2 separate regions of the Homo sapiens genome follow, and region 1 is linked to region 2. The links come from fine-mapping of genetic effects on gene expression. A gene starts in region 2. The other region holds a variant in brackets. All regions are shown on one strand. Distances are from middle to middle.

What was found. PIP is the estimated chance that this variant, and not a neighbour inherited with it, causes the effect. A credible set is the group of variants that fine-mapping cannot tell apart.
Region 1: its variant is the best candidate, but not a certain one, in a credible set for the expression of SNRPE in caudate (GTEx, PIP 0.51).

What each region holds. Positions count from the first base shown.
Region 1 is chr1:203,655,348-203,660,724 of GRCh38, reverse strand. The region is part of intron 1 of ATP2B4 (ATPase plasma membrane Ca2+ transporting 4); the gene reads right to left. It also overlaps the pseudogene NSA2P1. Among named protein-coding and RNA genes, the nearest start is that of ATP2B4, 31 kb to the right of the region's middle. The variant G/T (reference allele first, on the strand shown) is at 2,598.
Region 2 is chr1:203,859,483-203,864,859 of GRCh38, reverse strand. SNRPE (small nuclear ribonucleoprotein polypeptide E) reads right to left here and starts at 3,261. Exons shown (of 5, transcript NM_003094.4): 1 at 3,147-3,261; 2 at 2,638-2,664; 3 at 1,135-1,197. The coding sequence starts at 3,200. RefSeq lists enhancers at 2,156-2,731, 3,117-3,376, 3,185-3,479.

The DNA of each region.
Region 1 (5,377 bases), 200 kb after region 2:
CAGGTTCAAGCAATTCTCCTGCCTCAGCCTCCCAAGTAGCTGGGATTACAGGTGCTCACACCATGCCCAGCTAATTTTTGTATTTTCAGCAGAGATGGGGTTTCACCATGTTGGCCAGGCTGGTCTCGATCTCTTGACCTCACGATCTGCCCACCTCGGTCTCCCAAAGTGCTGGAATTACAGGCGTGAGCCACTGTGCCCAGGCCTCCCCCCACCCCCCACCTCCGTTCTCTTCTTACTGCTCCCTAGGAGCCTATTCATCGGCTGTTACATTGAACTGGGACCTCATTTTTTATCTCCACCACCCCAAGTGATACATTCTCACCCCAATGGCGTGCATTCTCACGATCTTCCAACCTACTACCTTTTGTGATAGCTATTTTTATCCTCTTTCAACAACTGAAGGAACTGAGGCCTAAAGCTCTGCAGTTAACTTGTGGTGAAACTGGACCATAAACCCAGGTCCAAAAAACTCATGGTCTTGGCTGTTACATGATGTTTTGGCATTAGAGAGAAAAAATCTACCACATGGTAAAGGGAAAAGTAGCTTGGGTTGAATTTCAAATACTTGGATTGGAATCCAAGCTCTGTGACCTTGGACAAGTTTCTTTCTTTCTTTCTTTCTTTTTTTTTTTTTTTTTTTGAGATGGAGTCTTGCTCTGCCGCCCAGGCTGGAGTGCAGTGGCACAATCTTGGCTCACTGCAACCTCCAGCTCCCAGGTTCAAGCGATTCTCCTGCCTCAGCCTCCCGAGTAGCTGAGATTACAGGCACCTGCCACCACGCCCGGCTAATTTTTGTGTTTTTAGTAGAGACAGGATTTCACCATTTTGGCCAGGCTGATCTTGAACTCCTGATCTTGTGATCCACCTGCCTTGGCCTCCCAAAGTGCTGGAATTACAGGCGTGAGCCACCACACCCAGCTTTTTATATATTTTTTTTAGCAACAGGGTCTCACCCTGCCAACCAGGCTGGATGGAGCAATCTTCCCGCTTCAGCCTCCCCAGTAGCTAGAACTACAGGCTTCCCCCACATGCCTAGCTAATTTTTATTTTTATTTTTTGAGACAGGGTCTTGCTCTGTTACTCAGGCTGGAATGCAGTGGCATGATCAGAACTCACTGAAGCCTCAGCCTCTGGGCTCAAGTGATCCTCCCACCTCAGCCTCCTTTGTGGACTACAGGGGTGTGCCACCATGCCTGGCTAATTTTCAAATGTTTTTGTAGAGACAACGTTTTGCTGTGTGGTCTCGGCTGGTCTCAAACTCCTGGGCTCAAGTGATCCTCCCACCTCTGCCTCCCAAAGTGCTGGGATTATGGGTGTGAGCCACTGCACCTGGCCAGAAACTATAATTTTTAAATACCTGCTTTGGGCTTGTCATTCTGACATATATTACATGAAATTATAAAGATTAATGATTCAAAGTGATTAATACAAGAGCTACTCAAGAAATGGTAATCTTTATTATTTTCTTCGATATCACAACCATAAATTTTTTTTTAACTGACACATTTTCTATCATTTTCATTTGTGTTTCCTTTTCATTTTTCTTCCCCTCTGCTAGTTTGGAAGTTATATTATACCAAGTTTTTTAGTATTAGCCTAGAAATCTTAACATAAAGACTTCTAATAAGCAATATCTTTAATTTTTTCCCTAGAAAATATAAGGACCTTAGAACACTTAAACTCCAATTACTATATTCACCTTCTAATTTTTTTTTTTTCAGACGCAGTCTCACTTTGTCACCCAGGCTGGAGTGCAGTGGCGCGATCTCGGCTCACTGCAACCTCCACCTCCTGGGTTCAAGCAATTCTCCTGCCTCAGCCTCCTCAGTAGCTGGGATTACAGGCACACACCACCACGCCCAGCTAATTTTTGTATTTTTAGTAGAGACGGGGTTTCACCATGTTGGCCAGGCTGGTCTCGATCTCCTGACCTTGTGATCCACCCGCCTCAGCCTCCCAAAGTGTTGGGATTACAGGCATGGGCCACCATGCCTGGCCTTACCTTCCAATTTATATACTATAGTTACTGAGGATTTAAATTATATCTTCATTTTATTCCTATCAATTAGACATTGTTATATTTCTGATATTTCTTGTCTTTGACATCAATATTTAGATTTCACTCCATGTTTACCATTTTATTTGCTCATCATCCCGTCTTCGTTTCTTTTTCTTTTTTTCTTTTTTTTTTGAGACAGGGTCTCCCTCTGTTGGCCAGGGTGGAGTGCAGTGGCGCCATCATAGCTCACTGCGGACTGAATCTCCTGGGCTCAAGTGATCCTCCCACCTCAGTCTCCCAAGTAGCTGGGACTACAGGCCTGCATCATCATGCCAGGCTTTTTTTTTTTTTTTTAATTTTTATTAGAGATGAGGTTTCTCTATTTTGCCCAGGCTGTTCTTGAACTCCTGAGCTCAAAAGATCCTTTCATCTTGGTTTTCCAGAGTGCTAGGACTATAAGGCATGAGCCACAGTGCTCAGTCCATCATCCCTTCTTGAATCTTAGACTTTCCTTTTAGTACAGGCATACCTTGGAGACATTGCAGGTACGATTCCAGACCACTGCAATAAGGCAAGTTCCTGGTTATTTATTATT[G/T]TTTTGGTTTCTCAGTGCATATAAAAGTTATGTGTACACAATACTATAGTCTATTAAGTGTTTTTATGGTTAAAAAACACAATGTGACTACCTTAATTAAAATATATTTTGTGTTAAAAATGCTAATGATCGGCCGTGGTTCACGCCTGTAATCCTAGCACTTTGGGAGGTTGAGGGGGGCGGATCACTTGCGGTCAGGAGTTCAAGGCCAGCCTGGCCAACATGGTGAAACCCTGTCTCTACTACAAATATTTTTAAAAAAGGGTGACCCTTTCCTGTCCCGGCCTGCGTGGAGTCTCTGAGACCTTAAAATTGAGAGTGTTTTCGCACCTCAGGGGCTACTCCTGGTGGTTCTGCGCCTGTCACCATGCCACAGAACGAATATATTGAATTACACCATAAACACTATGGATACCGTTTGGATTACCATGAGAAGAAAAGAAAGAAGGAAAGCTGAGAGGCTTATGAACGAGAGGCTCATGAACGTTCAAAGAAGGCAAAGCAAATGATTGGTCTGAAGGCTAAGCTTTACCTTAAACAGTGTCATGCTGAGAAAATACAAATGAAAAAGACTATCAAGATGCATGAAAAGAGAAACACCAAACAAAAGAAGGATGAAAAGACTCCACAGGGAGCAGTACCTGCTTATCTGCTGGACAGAGAGGGACAATCTCGAGCCAAAGTACTTTCCAATATGATTAAACAGAAATGAAAAGAGAAGGTGGGAAAACGGGAAGTCCCTCTGACTAAAGTACATGCCCAGGGAGAAACAGACGTATTAAAAGTTGTTTGAACAGGAAAGAGAAAGAAGAAGGCATGGAAGAGGGTGGTTACTAAACTCTGCTTTGTCGGAGATGGCTTTACAAGAAAACCACCTAAATAAGAAAGACTGATCAGGCCAATATGCATTTCAAGAAAGCCCATGTATTACATCTTGAACTGAAAGCCACCTTTTGCCCACCAATACTTGGTGTAAAGAAGAATCCCTCATCCCCACCGTATACAACTGTGGGTGTTATTACCAAAGATATTGTCATTGAGGTAAATGTGAGCGAATTGGGCCTTGTGACACAAGGAGGCAAAGTTATTTGGAGAAAATATGCTCAGGTTACCAACAGTCCTGAAAATGATGGCTGCATAAATGCAGTCTTACTGGTTTGACAGCAATTTCATATATAATTATTGGGGACTACACACCAACTGAAAAAACTGCCATTACTGTAATGTTTCTACCAAACAGCCATATATGTCTGCAATCAAGAGATTTATTACATTGTAAACATTAAAATGGTCCAGTTTTATAAATGGTCTTTGTTTTGAAATCTGCTTAGACCCCATGTTCATAAAATTGAATGATTGAAAAAAAGCAAATATACAAATATCCTACTTCATCAATATCTGCATTTATGCGTGGGTATTCAGCAATTTCCTGAAAAACCACCAGTTCCGTTGAAAATGCCTTTCAAAAAGGTTAATACACACTTAATTATGTGTCTGAGAATTTAAATGAAGTATCTTCTACCTCGTTATTCATTAATCCTAAAAAGACAGCATTAATACAGATGTTAAGTTTACAGTGTTTACACTAAAAGTATGTGAGAAGACGCAAAGTTCAGAACTCTTAGAGAAATCTTTTCACCTGTGAAATCCTTAACTTCTGAATACCGCAAAGGTCTAGTGAATTCACATTCTAAACATTTTTTTCTTCCATTTACCATGTAGAATAATACCTACTTGGCACTGTTTTCTACTTGAATCATGAAAATGAAAAAAAATACTAAAGTCTTTGTACTTTCTTAGCATTTCTGTGTTCTAAACAGTATATTTCTAGTTTCAGAATGGTATTAAGAATTAGTTTAAGCAGCTCCAGCTAAGTTTTAAAAGGATAAAGAAGACTGCACTGATTCTCTGAGGAGAAACTTATTTGCAGTTAGATGACATAAAAAAGTAAGGTGTTAGGGTTGTAACTTGGTGAAAGCACTTTTGTGATCTGTGATATGTTGTGGCTTTAAGGATGGCTGTATATTATATTAATCTATAATCACCAAAAAAAAAAAAAAATAGCTGGGCGTGGTGGCACATGTAATCCCAGCTACTCGGGAGGCTGAGTTGAGAGAATCGCTTGAACCCAGGAGGCGAAGGTTGCAGTGAGCCGAGATCGCACCGTTGCACTCCAGCCTGGGCAACAGAGCAAGACTCCGTCTCAGAAACAAAACAAAACAAAACACAACGCTAATGATCATCTGAGCCTTCAGGAAGTGGTAATCTTTTTGCTGGTGGAGAGGTCTTTTCTCAATGTGGATGGCTGCTTGCTGATGGGTGGGGTAGCTGTGACAATTTCTTCAAATAAGACAACAATAAAGTTTGCTGCATTGATTGACTTTTTAGTGAGACTTCTCTATAACATATGATGCTATTTGACAGCATTTTTTCCTTTTCTTCCTTTTGTTTCTTATTTTATTTATTATTATTATTATTATTTGAGATGGAGTCTTGCTATGTTGCCCAGGCTGGAGTGCACTGACATGATCTGAGCTCACTGCAACCTCCACCTCCCAGGTTCAAGCAATTCTCCTGCCTCAGCCTTCCAAGTAGCTGGCATTACAGGAACGCACCACCACACCTGGTTAATTTTTGTATTTTTAGCAGAGACAGGGTTTCTCCATGTTGGCCAGGCTGGTCTCCAACTCTTGATCTCAGGTGATCCGCCTGCCTTGGCCTCCCAAAGTGCTGGGATTACAGACGTGAGCCACCGTGCCTGGCCTCTTTTTTTTTACATC
Region 2 (5,377 bases):
TGTCTTCCAGGCTAGAGTGCAGTGGTGCAACCTCGGCTTACTGCAGCTGGACCTCCTGGGTTCAAGCAATTCTTCTGCCTCAGCTCCCCCCAAGTAGCTGGAACTACAGGGCGCACCACCATGCCTGGCTACTTTTTGTATTTTTGGTAGAAACAGGGTTTCATCATGTTGCCCAGGCTGGTCTCGAACTCTGGAGCTAAAGTGATTCATCATGCTCGGCCTCCCTAAGTGCTAGGATTACAGGCGTGAGCCACCTTGCCCAGCAAAATATTTAAAAATTAGCTGGACCTGGTGGTGTATGCCTATAGTTCCCAGCTACTAGAGGCTGAGGTGGAAAAATCACTTGAGCCAAGGAGTTCAAGATTGCAGTGAGCTGAGAGCACCTGGGTGACAGAGCCGGACCCCAACTTAAAAAAAAAAATTTAGGGTAGCCTGCTATCCCAGAAGCCTTATTTAACTAACCCCACTGAGCTCTCTATTCAGGTATCACCTAACCCACAACAAATAACCCCACCCTCCCTAATTTCATTTATTTTGTCCCCCCTCTCCATACTAACATTGTCGCTCAATATTTTTTTTTCGAATAATTTTTAAAAGTTAATTTTCAGCCAGGCGTTGTGGCTCATGCCTGTAATCCCAAGACTTTGAGAGGCTGAGGTGGGAGAATCACTTGAGCCTAGGAGTTTGAGACCAGCCTGGGCAACACAGTGAGACCTCATCTCTATAAAAAATAAAAATTTAGCAGGCTGTGATGGTGCACGCTTCTGATCCTAGCTACTTGGGAGGCTGAGGCAGGAGGACTACTTGAGCCCGGGAGGTTGAGGCTGCAACGAGCCATGATTGTGCCACTGCACTCCAGCCTAAGCAACAGAACAAAGCCCTTTCTCAAAAATCAAATACAAATTTTCTTCTCAACATAGACAGAGGAAAGAAAATGAATTAAAAGTTATTTTCCCTATTAAAAACTACCCAATCCTTATCTATCAACAATGAAAAAAGGCTAAACAGCAGCACCTGAAAAACTTTCCTTAGGTTGGATCTTTGACTTTTTATACACTGTTCTGGCTAGACACTTTCTGTTAAGTCTTTTTCTACGACCGAACTGCTATGAGATGAAATCGCCTGGATACTCACAATGATACAGCCTTCTATCCGCATATTCACTTGCTCATAGAGCCACACCTGAATCCGCGATCTCTGAAATAATCATAAAAGTGGAAACGTTAAAAAAAGAAAAATAGGGCCGGGCGCGGTGGCTCACGCCTGTAATCCCAGCACTTTCGGAGGCCGAGGGAGGTGGATCACAAGGTCAAGAGATAGAGACCATCCTCGTTAACATGGTGAAACCCCATCTCTACTAAAAATACAAAAAAAATTAGCTGGGCGTGGTGGCGCACGCCTGTAGTCCCAGCTACTCGGGACGCTGAAGCAGGAGAATCGCTTGAACCCGGGAGGCAGAGGTTGCAGTGAGCTGAGATCGCGCCACTGCACTCCAGCCTGGGCACAGTGAGACTCCGTCTCAAAAAAAAGAAAAGAAAAACAGGCCAGGTGCCTCGATTCACACCGTTCCCATACTTTGGGATGCCAAAGCGGAATAATTCGCTTTGTGGCCAGGTGTTCAATATAAGCCTGCGCAACATTAAGCAAGATCTCCCCGCCCCCCGCCCCCCAAAAAATTGAAGTATACAAAACCTAACCATTTTGGTCAAACGACAAGAGAAATATGGCTCCTAAAAAAATTGTAATGAATGTAAGTCAAAAGTTTTAACTAATTAGCCCATATCTAAGAATTATTCACCAATAATAATAACCTCAAAAAGAATTTTCATTTAATAAGTTCTATATTGGAACTGTATAAGCTAATAATTTTCCTGTGATTTTGGGACTCAATATTTCTTACTGCTTCTGGTCTCAATCTATTAAGAGTGAAAGTTTTTGACAGCATAGCACAAAGCAGTAATTTCTAATGACCAAGGGCTTATCTCCTGCAGCAAAATCCAGTTCCAAAACAAAGCCTTCTCATGTCACACACCTAACAACTAGGACAGGAGCCCTCAATTCAGGTGGTTAAGAATTATTATCACCTGAAATTAATGTTTTTCAGTTGTGTTATCACACTATAAAATTTAAGTTGCTAAAATTTCCCTCAAAGGAAAGCAGCTGCCACTAAACTCCTCTGAAGCTACCCCTTCTCTCTTCCTTTTTTCGTCTTTAAGTTTTCCCACAGGTATTAAACACACCACCTCTTGACATGGTTTAAGTTGGCTGGGTTTTTCTTCCAATGTTTCATCCTAAAGGGGAGAGGTTCCAATGTTCTAGCCATAATCACTACTAACAAAACTACTGATGCCCAAATACCATGGTCAAGTCTGCTAATAATACTTTTTGGAATTAAAAAGTATTTTTGATCTTGCAAAGTAATGGATACAATTCTTTGCATGTTGGGAAGTGGCATGGATACACACCACTTCATCACATTAGTGCTTTCTAAGTACTCCTTCCCCTCAATTACCCTCCAATCTCCAGTTACATCTATTTTTAAATTCTAGAACACAGCGATCGCTCAGGTTAACACAAAAAACTAAATCAGTTCACCTCTTATTTAAAAAGTAGTTACGAAACAAGCAACTTACGTACATTTTGTAAGTATCTGAAGATGAGGTTCTGCACCACAGTGGCTAAGGAAAAAATACAAAAGCAGCATAGACTCTGCTTCCTGAAACAACCGGACGACGCTATTCCCGTCTCACCTTTGTTTACTAAACGCGAGGTCTGGTGCTTACGCAAACAACAAGTGCCCAGCTGGGCATTCGTTACGGGTCTTCTAAAGACTAAAGAACATCCATTCCACTTTCATCCCCCTGGAGTTTCCCAAAACCGTTAACTCCCGTTTTCACTCCGCACCTGAAGTTCTCTTCCCTCCTTTTGCCGCGTCCATTCCTGCATTCCCCACGGCAGGGGTCCCCCCAAGACCACCTCCCCACCATCACGGTTCAACTACCCGCGCTTTCTTCCAGTCTTGGTAGCCCCGGGGGCTCATGGGATGTGGATCCGTACTCCACTATCCCAGGCCTGCCCTCAGCCTGCGCCTTCGCACCCCGTATTCTGACCCGAACCTCCTAGTCCTGACATCCTGCGTAGGATACGATGGGCTGCACCATAACCTTCTGCACTTTCTGACCCTGGCCACGGTACGCCATGGTGGAATTTCACAAAGAGCACACCCGCACGCTGCCTCTGAGAGCAACTTCCGGAATAAAGAACCGGAAGCGGAAGTGTGAAGGTCACGCGGCGGCATGGGCGGCTCCTGGGAAATGCCCCTCTAGCCATGAAGTCACGTTTCTTCGCTGCATGGCCTCCGAGGGAGGCCAAACTGAGGCGTCTGCGCTGTGGAAGGTGGGCCGGTCCTACAGCGCCACCTGGAGGGAGGCGGGAGGAGGTGCCTTCGGTTGTATAGTGGCCGTGGTAGGAGGAGTGCCGTCCTGTCTCCAATTTCTTTTCTTTTTTTTTTTTTGAGGCGAAGTCTCGCTCTGTCGCCCAGGCTGGAGTGCAGTGGCGCGATTTCAGCTCACTGCAACCTCAGCCTCCAGGGTTCAAGCGATTCTCCTGCCTCAGCCTCCCGAGTAGCTGGGACTACAGGCGCCTGCCACCACGTCCGACTAATTTTTTGTGTTTTTAGTAGAGACGGGGTTTCACCATGTTGGCCAGGATGGTCTCGATCTCCTGACCTCATGATCCGCCCGCCTCGGCCTCCCAAAGTGCTGGGATTACAGGCGTAAGCCACCGCGCCCGGCCTGTATCTCCATTTTCTGAGTTAGCTTGAAAAGCCAAAATCGTCCCAGTGTGTATCTCTATGTGTAAAATGAGTTAATTTCGTGCCTTTCCTAAAGCCTATTTTGCTGGAGTTTAGGCTTGATAGCAGCGTTGTGGTGGAAAGGGTAGGGCGGCAAGGAGCCCAAACTTCAGGCCTCCCACCTCTGGCAGTCGGCCAGAGGCGGTCTGCATTCCAAAGCCAGACGCCTGGTTCCCTCCAGTTACGGATTCAATTCTCATCCATTTCGTGGAGAGTTACTGTTCAGGTGGCAACTGAGGGTGGCGATTTACCAGGAAGACGCTGAAATCCACATGCTGGGCGCAAATCCAGCTCTTTTAGAGTTGGTGACCAAGGATAAATTACTCAGCCTCGCCATGTCTTGGCTTAGTTTCCAAAACGGAGATTATAGTAAAGATTAACTTTACTCAGGGGCTTAAAGATTCAATGAAATAATTGTCTATGTGTGCACACAGTTAGGCGTCAGCCAGTGTCAGAACATGTCCTTCCCTGGATAACACAGCTACTAAGTGGAGCAGCTGGAATTTGTAGGTGTGCCTGACCCCAAAGTCCACCTACCTTTCCATTGTGTCATGGCTTGTGGCCTGGCAGAGATTTCACTTAATTGGCATACACATGTTATAGAGGAGGAAACTGAAGTTTAGACTTTTGAAAGGACTTGCCTAAGGGAACACGGATTAGGGCAAATGGCAGAATCAAAATTAGCTTTTCTGAGGGCTTCTGTTTAATGGGGATAATAGTAATAACGACTTCAGAAAGGGGTTGAGTTGAAAGTGATTTTTAAACTACACAAAGCGGCCAGGCTCACGCCTGTAATCCCAGCATTTTGGGAGGCCGAGGCAGGTGGATCAACTGAGGTCAGGAGTTCGAGACCAGCCTGGGCAACATGGTGAAACCTTGTCTCTACTAAAAATACAAAAATTAGCCATGCATGGTAGCACATGCCTGTAATCCCAGCTACTTGGGAGACTGAGACAGGAGAATCACTTGAACCCAGGAGGCAGAGGTTGCAGTGAGCCGAGATCATGCCACTGCACTCCAGCCTTGGTGACGGAGCGAGACTCCGTCTCAAAAAAATAAATAAGAATAAATAAATAAATAAACTACACAAAGCTGGCAAATGCATGGGATAACTATTTCCTTTAAAAAATTTCAGCCAGGGCTGGGCACAGTGGCTCATGCCTGTAAATCCCAGCACTTTGGGAGGCTGAGGCAGGCAGATCACAAGGTCAGGAGTTTGAGACCAGCCTGGCCAATATGGTGAAACCCCGTCTCTATTAAAAATACAAAAATTAGCTGGGCGTAGTGGTAGGCGCCTGTAGTCCCATCTACTCAGGAGGCTGAGGCAGGAGAATTGCTTGAATCTGGGAGGCAGAGGTTGCAGTGAGCCGAGATCGCGCCACTGCACTCCAGCCTGGGTGACAGAGCAAGACTCTGTCTCAAAGAAAAAAAAAAAAAAATTTCAGCCAGGTGCGCGAGCTCATGCCTGTAATCCCAGCATTTTGAGAAGCAGAAGCAGGAGGCTTGCTCGAACCCAGGAGTTCA